2 linked regions of the Homo sapiens genome follow. The protein of the gene in region 2 purifies or fractionates together with the protein of the main gene of each other region. This does not show direct contact. Each region holds a gene or a part of one and is shown on either strand. Other genes may lie near its edges.

Region 1 (3,802 bases), on a different chromosome or scaffold from region 2:
CGGGAAAAGTACTACCTGTTACACATTGTCTGAAAACCATTGTTTCATATATTTTGTCTTTGTATGTTTTTAGTTGTTTAAGATAGAAGAATAAATCCAATTATTATTATTCCATCTTGACCAGGATCCTTTTTTTTCCAAAAATCTATAAAAACATGTTTTTCTCATTGGGGAAGGTGGTTATTTAGGAAAGATTCTTAGTCTACATGACATTTGGCTTTGGTGTTCAGATCCGACTTTCAAGTTACCTATATAATTATTCTTTTTTTTTTTTTAATATTTCGGTTTTTTTCCCCAAGGTTCCAATATTGAAAAATCTGTAAAAGACCTCCAGCGCTGCACAGTGTCTCTTGCACGGTATCGAGTTGTAGTTAAAGAAGAGATGGATGCCTCCATTAAGAAAATGAAACAAGCCTTTGCTGAATTGGAGAGCTGGTAATTTAAGCTGCATTTGATATCAGTAGCATAAAAATGATCATATATAAATATAAAGATGGTCAGCCATTCCCCAAGTTCATTCATTCATGACTAACTACATAGTAGGAGAGACTTATAAATCCTATGGTATATTTAGCTTTCTGCTTTGTTCTATTTCTCTTGGTCACAGTGTGAGAATGGTACAGATAACTCACAATGCTCTAGAAATGAGCTGGAGTTTAATATTGTTTGGAAAGGGACACATAATTATAGAGTAGATCATATACTTTAAAGTCTCCTTTTAGGCCGGTGCGGTGGCTCAAGCCTGTAATCCCAGTACTTTGGGAGGCCGAGGTGGGCGGATCTTGAGGTCAGGAGATCAAGACCATCCTGGCTAACACGGTGAAAACCCGTCTCTACTAAAAATACAAAAAATTAGCTGGGTGTGGTGGCGCGCGCCTGTAGTCCTAGCTACTCGGGAGGCTGAGGCAGGAGAATGGCGTGAACCCGGGAGGCGGAGCTTGCAGTGAGCCAAGATCTCGCCACTGCACTCCAGGCTGGGCGACAGAGCGAAACTCTGTCTCAAAAAAAGAAAAGAAAAAAAAAAGTCTCCTTTTAAACTAAGATCCTATAACAAATGACATGATGTATGTTTTTGAACAAAATTATAAAGTAGAAAAAATCTGTCTTTGCTTTCCTACCTTCTTCCATCCTTTTTAATTTATGCCACTCCAATAAAGTGCCCTTTTATTAATTATTATTATTATTGTTGTTTTTTGAGACAGGGTCTTACTCTGTCTGTCACCCAGGCTGGAATGCTATGGCACGATCACATCTCACTGTAGCCTCAGCCTCCTGGGCTCCAGCAATCCTCCCACCTCAGCCTCCCAAGTAGCTGGTACTACAGGCATGTACCACCACACCTGGCTCATTTTTTAATTTTTAAATATTTTGTAGAAATGTGGTCTCACTATGTTGCCCAGGCCAGTCTTGAACTACTGGGCTCAAGTGATCTGCCTGAAGCTGGGTAATTTATAGTGAATAGAGATTTATTTTTTACAGTTTTGGAGTCTGAGAAGTTTAAGGTCAAGGGGCCCACATCTTGGCAAGGACCTTGCTGTGTCATTCCATGGCAGATGGCAGAAGGGCAAGGGAGCATGCATGGGAGAGCCAGAGAGGGCCAAACTCAATTTTCTAATGAACCCACTCTCTCAATAACAAAATTAATTCATTTGTGGGACTCTCCCCTCATGACCTAATCATCTCTTAAAGGTCCCACCTCTCACCACTGTAGCACTGAGGATTAAGTTTCCAACACACGAGCTTTGGGGATCACATTCAAACCATAGCAATATTCTAATGTTTCCTGGAACACTGAAGCTGTTTTAACTGTTAGATATTAAGGTGTTAACGGATATTTGTTTTTTTGTTTTGTTTTGTTTGTTTTTTGAGACGGAGTCTCTGTCGCCTAGGCTGGAGTGGAGTGGCCCAATCTTGGCTCACTGCAACCTCCGCCTCCCAGGTTGCAGCCATTCTCCTGCCTCAGCCTCCCGGAGTAGCTGGGACTACAGACATGTGCCACCATGCCTGGCTAATTTTTTGTGTGTTTTTAGTAGAGATGGGGTTTCACCATGTTGGCCAGGCCGGTCTCGAACTCCTGACCTCAGGTGATCTGCCCATCTCTGCCTCCCAAAGTGCTGGGATTACAGGAGTGAGCCACCGTGCCCAGCTGGTGTTAACAGATGTTTAAATTCTAGCTCCTTTGTGGGAGGTATTTTATAAGGGATTTTTTGAAACTAGAAAAGACTTAAGGACCATATTAAAATGACAGGAAGACAAGCAGCTAGGGTGATGTTTTGAGACTTAGAACTTGTTCATTATACTTATTTTTAGTAACTGTCTAGATCTGAAATATGACAGGAAGTGTTCATGAAAAGAACAAACCATACATGCTTTCTTGCTGCCTGTAGACTGTTCCCTCAGGTTATACCTAACTGTGTCTCTGTTCACAAATTTAGTCTAGTCACTTTTGCCACAACATATAAGAGATAGAGGAGAGTGTAGGTCCCCTCAGTCCTCCTGGTCTCTGGAATTGCAGAGGAGTAGTTAATCAAAATGAAATAATGCCTCCAAAAAGTTAAATCATCAGAACCAAAACTTACTTTGGGGCTAGATAATTCATCTTAGTCTACCCATGCCTTGTCCTGAACTCTAAGTTTTACTTTTCAGGTTTTATGGCTAGGAATTTAATGTCATGTCTTCTGTTTTTCTTTGTTTGTTTGAGACAGGGTCTGGCTCTGTCACCCAGGCTGGAGTGCGGTGGCACGGTCATGGCTCACTGCAACCTCCACCTCCTGGGCTCAAGCCATCCTCCCACCCTCAGCCTCCCTAGTCCCCTAGCTGGGACTACAAGCATGTGCCACCACACCTGGCTAATTTTTTAATTTTTTGTAGAGATGAGGTTTCACCATATTGCCCAGGCTGGTCTCCAATTCCTGGGCCCAAGCAATCCTCTCATCTAGGCCTCCCAAAGTGCTGGGATTACAGCCATAAGCCACTGCGCCTGGCTGTCTTCTGTTTTTCTTGACACATATTTTTGCTCCTGCCAGATTACTCATTGTCTCAAAACTTAACATTCACATTTCCTCTTCCATCTACTAGTTAATGCCACTTTCCCAGCCTGAAAATGTTCTCCTATTCCTCTGTATTTATCTAAATCCCACCATTTCTCCAAACTTTCCTTAAATTAAGGTCTAACTTCTGGAAATTATTTTAGGTAACTGATTTTTCCCCTTTCTGAACCTCTAGGAGGAAGCACCATGCCCTTTGCACTGCATTCTTGTCATATAAGATATTGTTGGCTTGTTTAGAAAATAAAGAGCTGGCTGGGCACAGTGGCTCATGCCTGAATCCCAGCACTTTGGGAGGCCAAGGCGGGCAGATCACAAGGTCAAGAGTTCAAGACCAGCTTGGCCAACATGGTGAAACCCCATCTCTACTAAACATTCAAAAATTAGCCGGGCGTGGTGGCGTGCACCTGTAATCCCAGCTACTAGGGAGGCTGAAGCAGGAGAATTGCTTGAACCCAGGAGGTGGAGGTTGCAGTGAGCTGAGATCGCGCCATTGCACTCCAGCCTGGGCGATAGGGCGAGACTCCATCTCAAAAAACAAAGAAAAAAGAGCTGGGCGCGGTGGCTCATGCCTGTAATCCCAGCGCTTTGGGAGGCCGAGGCGGGTGGATCACGAGGTCAGGAGATGGAGACCATCCTGGCTAACAAGGTGAAACCCCGTCTCTACTAAAAATACAAAAAGTTAGCCGGGCGTGGTGGCGGGCGCCTGTAGTCCCAGCTACTCAGGAGGCTGAGGCAGGAGAATGGCGTGATCC
Region 2 (3,500 bases):
CTTTTCATCAACAGGTATTGAAAATGATTGAACATTGTTTTATTTGTGTAAACAGAACACACTATATATAAAAATCCAATAATTAACTGAATGGATAAGCAAAATGTGGTATAAGCATACAAAGGAATATTATTGGGTCATAAAAAGAATGAAGTACTGATACATGCTACAACATAGATAAACCTTGGAAACATTATGCAGAGTGAAGGAAGGCCAGACACCAAAAGCCACATATTGTATGATTCCATTTAGATGAAATGTCCAGAATAGGCAAATCCCTAGAGGCAGAAAGTAGATTAGTGGGTTACAGGGGCTGGGGAAAGGGAGGAATAAGGAGTGACTGCTAATGGGTATGAGGGTTTTTTTTGGAGGAGGTGATTAAAATGTTCTTCTGCCAGGTGTGGTGGCTCATGCCTGTAATCCCAGCACTTTGGGAGGCCGAGGCGGGAGGATTGTTTGAGCCCAGGAGTTTGAGGCCAGCCTGGGCAACATAGTGAGACCCTATCTCTATTTCAAATACATTTTTTATATTAAAAAAATGTTCTTCAAGTAGTTGGTAATTATTTTTAAAAATGGCCAGGTGCAGAGGCTCATGCCTGTAATCCCAGCACCTTGGGAGGCTGAGGTGGGAGGATCCCTTGAGCCCAGGAGGTTTGGGACCAGCCTGGGCCATACAGCAAGACCCTGTCTCTACAAAAAATACAAAAATTAGCTAGGCATAGTGATGTGCACCTGTGGTCCCAGCTACTCGGGAGGCTGAGGTAGGAGAATCTCTTGAGCCTATGTTGAGCCTGCAGTGAACCCTATTTATGCCATTGCACTCCAGCCTAGGCAACAGAGTAAGACTCTGTCTCAAAAAAAGAAAAAAAAAATTAGGGAAAGGAAGAATAATTAGCCAAGACTTGTAAAACAAAAATCAAATCTCTTCTTTTGATCACATAAAACTTGCTTTAAACTTGCAAAAAAGACCTGATATAAATTCATAAGTAACAAAAAATTGAATTATATTAGAAACCATTAATTCAATGAATACTAAAGCTATGTAGGATGTAGCAAAATATACATATTAAGAAAAGGATTATCATAAAAGTTTTAATCTCCAGGCTCAAACCTAGAAAATCACTCTCCTCAAAGCCAGGGTTAATCATCATGCTCCAAACCAGGTACATTTCACATCACTTTGGGATCCTGGCAACTTTCTCTTTTGTTTTTTTTTTTTTTTGAGACAGGGTCTCCTCTGTCACCCAGGATGGAGTGCAGTGGTGTGATCATAGCTCACTGCAGCCTCGAACTCCTCAAGTGATCTTCCTGCCTCAGCCTCCCAAGTAGCGGGACCACAGGCACACAGCACCATGCCCATCTAATTAAAAAAATTTTTTTTTGTAGAGACAGGGGTCTCTGTACATTTCCCAGGCTGGTCATGTACTCCTAAACTCAAGCAGTCCTCCCACCTCAGCCTCCCAAAGTGCCGGAATTACAGTCATGAGCCACCATTCCCAGCGCTGGTGACTTTCTCCATCACTGGTGACTTTCTCCATCACTGGTATTCACTGCATTAGTGATGACATCATTACAATCTTCAATATGCAACTTTGTAGTCCTACTCTTGCATTCTTACTTTAAAGCCTCAGCATTAAGTTTGAATGTAATATTACAGCATCCTTCATTACTTTAAATCATTGGTTTCAATAGTAATTCATTTAAATCTAAAATGTTAGGCTGCAGTGGCTCATGCCTGTAATCCCCCCAGTTTGGGAGACTGAGGTGGGAGAATCACTTGAGGCCAAGAATTTGAGACCAGCCTGGGCAACACGGCAAGACCCCATCTCTAAAAATTAGTGGCCCGGCGCTGTGCCTCACGCCTGTAATCCCAACACTTTGGGAGGCCGAGGCGGATAGCTTGAGGTCAGGAGTTCAAGATCAGCCTGGCCAACATGGCGGAAACCCATTTCTACTAAAAATACAAAAATTAGCTGGGCATGGTGGCACGCCTGTAATCCCAGCTATTGAGAGGCCGAGGCAGGCAGACTGGGAGGCCAAGGCAGGCAGATTGCTTTGAGACCTGCCTGGGTAACATGGAGAAATCCTGTCTCTACAGAAAAATACAAAAATTAGCCAAGCATGGAGAAACCTCGTCTCTATAGAAAGACACAAAAACTAGCCATGCATGCCTGTGGTCCAGCTACTCGAAAGGCTGAGGTGGGAGGATTGCTTGATCCTGAGAGGTCAAGGCTGAAGTGAGCCATGGTGTGGCACTGCACTCCAGCCAGGGTGACAGACTAAAACCTTGTCTCAAAATAAATAAACACATTTAAAATAAATAAATACAATTAAAACTAAAATTAAAAAATAAAATAAAATGTTAAGAGAATAGCTCAAATTCTCCAAAAGAACTCTTGCACACCATTCCTCCTCTTCTCAAATCTCTATTTTCCTTCCCCAAAGCCAGTAACTGCTTCTCACCCTGACCCTGTGCTTTCTTTCCCGTCATTGCGAAAGAATGGTCCTTGCTTCTGTGCTGATCCCAAACCCTTTTGCCCTCAGATCCTCCTGTCCTTCCCTGGCCCTGCTCTGTATTGGCTGTGGGGTGGGGGTGGCGGTGGAACTGACCCCTGGCGTCTGCATTTCTCAGGCTCCCAGGGCTGTGGCTGACTTTGGCCAATGGGAGGCAAGGACGGGAGACTGAGAGCTTGGGAGGAAGGGAGAGAGGTATGTTTCTTCTCCTTACTCCCTGCCTGGGATGGCACCTTGGGCAGGACTCTGTTTTGCCCATGGCCTCAGCTCCCACCAGATGCCTCTAGTCCCTGGGCTCAGGAAATAGACAACCTCCTTCCACTATCGCTGTAGCCCAAGGAGGGAAGTATTTTTTTCTTTCTTTCTTTCTTTTTTTTTTTTTTTTTACAGAGTCTCACTCTTGTTGCCCAGGCTGGAGTGCAGTGGTGCGATCTCAGCTCACTGCCACCTCTGCCTCCCGGGTTCAAGTGATTCTCCTGCCTCAGCCTCCAGGGTGTGCCACTATGCCCAGCTAATTTTTGTATTTTTGGTAGAGACGGGGTTTTGCCATGTTGACCAGGCTGGTCTTGAACTTCTGACCCCAAATGATCTGCCTGCCTCGTCCTCCCAAAGTGCTGGGATTACAGGCATGAGCCACTGTGCCTGGCCGAAGGAAATATTTTCTTGCTATTGCTAATCTCTGGGTTACCTCGCTATCCCCCATTTAGCTTCACTTCTCCTCCATCACCTGTATGAGGAATTCCCTCTGTGTTAAATATCTGGAGAAGTTTCCTGATTGGACCCTGGCTGTTGCAGCTTCCAAGGCCACCTCTCTTTGTGGCTGGTATCCTTTTCCCATGCATCTTCTCCAGGACTTCCATTCTGCAGTTATCTCTCTGAACTCAGTGTCTTCTTCCCATCAGTATAGGGGTGGACTTTAGTATCTCCTATGTTTAGGCAACATCTCTCCTTTGACTCTGCGTCTTCTCCAGTGGTTGCCCTTCTCT

What was found. Proteins that work in one complex are often made in the same cells at the same time.
Region 1: the proteins of SRGN (region 2) and SPATS2 purify together in Homo sapiens (affinity purification with mass spectrometry, with the first as the bait; one study listed by BioGRID). This does not show direct contact.

What each region holds. Positions count from the first base shown.
Region 1 is NC_000012.12:49,499,771-49,503,572, forward strand, and holds part of SPATS2 (spermatogenesis-associated serine-rich protein 2), read left to right. Parts: intron 1-299; coding exon 300-435; intron 436-3,802.
Region 2 is NC_000010.11:69,098,103-69,101,602, forward strand, and holds part of SRGN (serglycin isoform 1 precursor), read left to right. Parts: intron 1-3,500. UniProt on the Homo sapiens protein: Plays a role in formation of mast cell secretory granules and mediates storage of various compounds in secretory vesicles. Required for storage of some proteases in both connective tissue and mucosal mast cells and for storage of granzyme B in T-lymphocytes.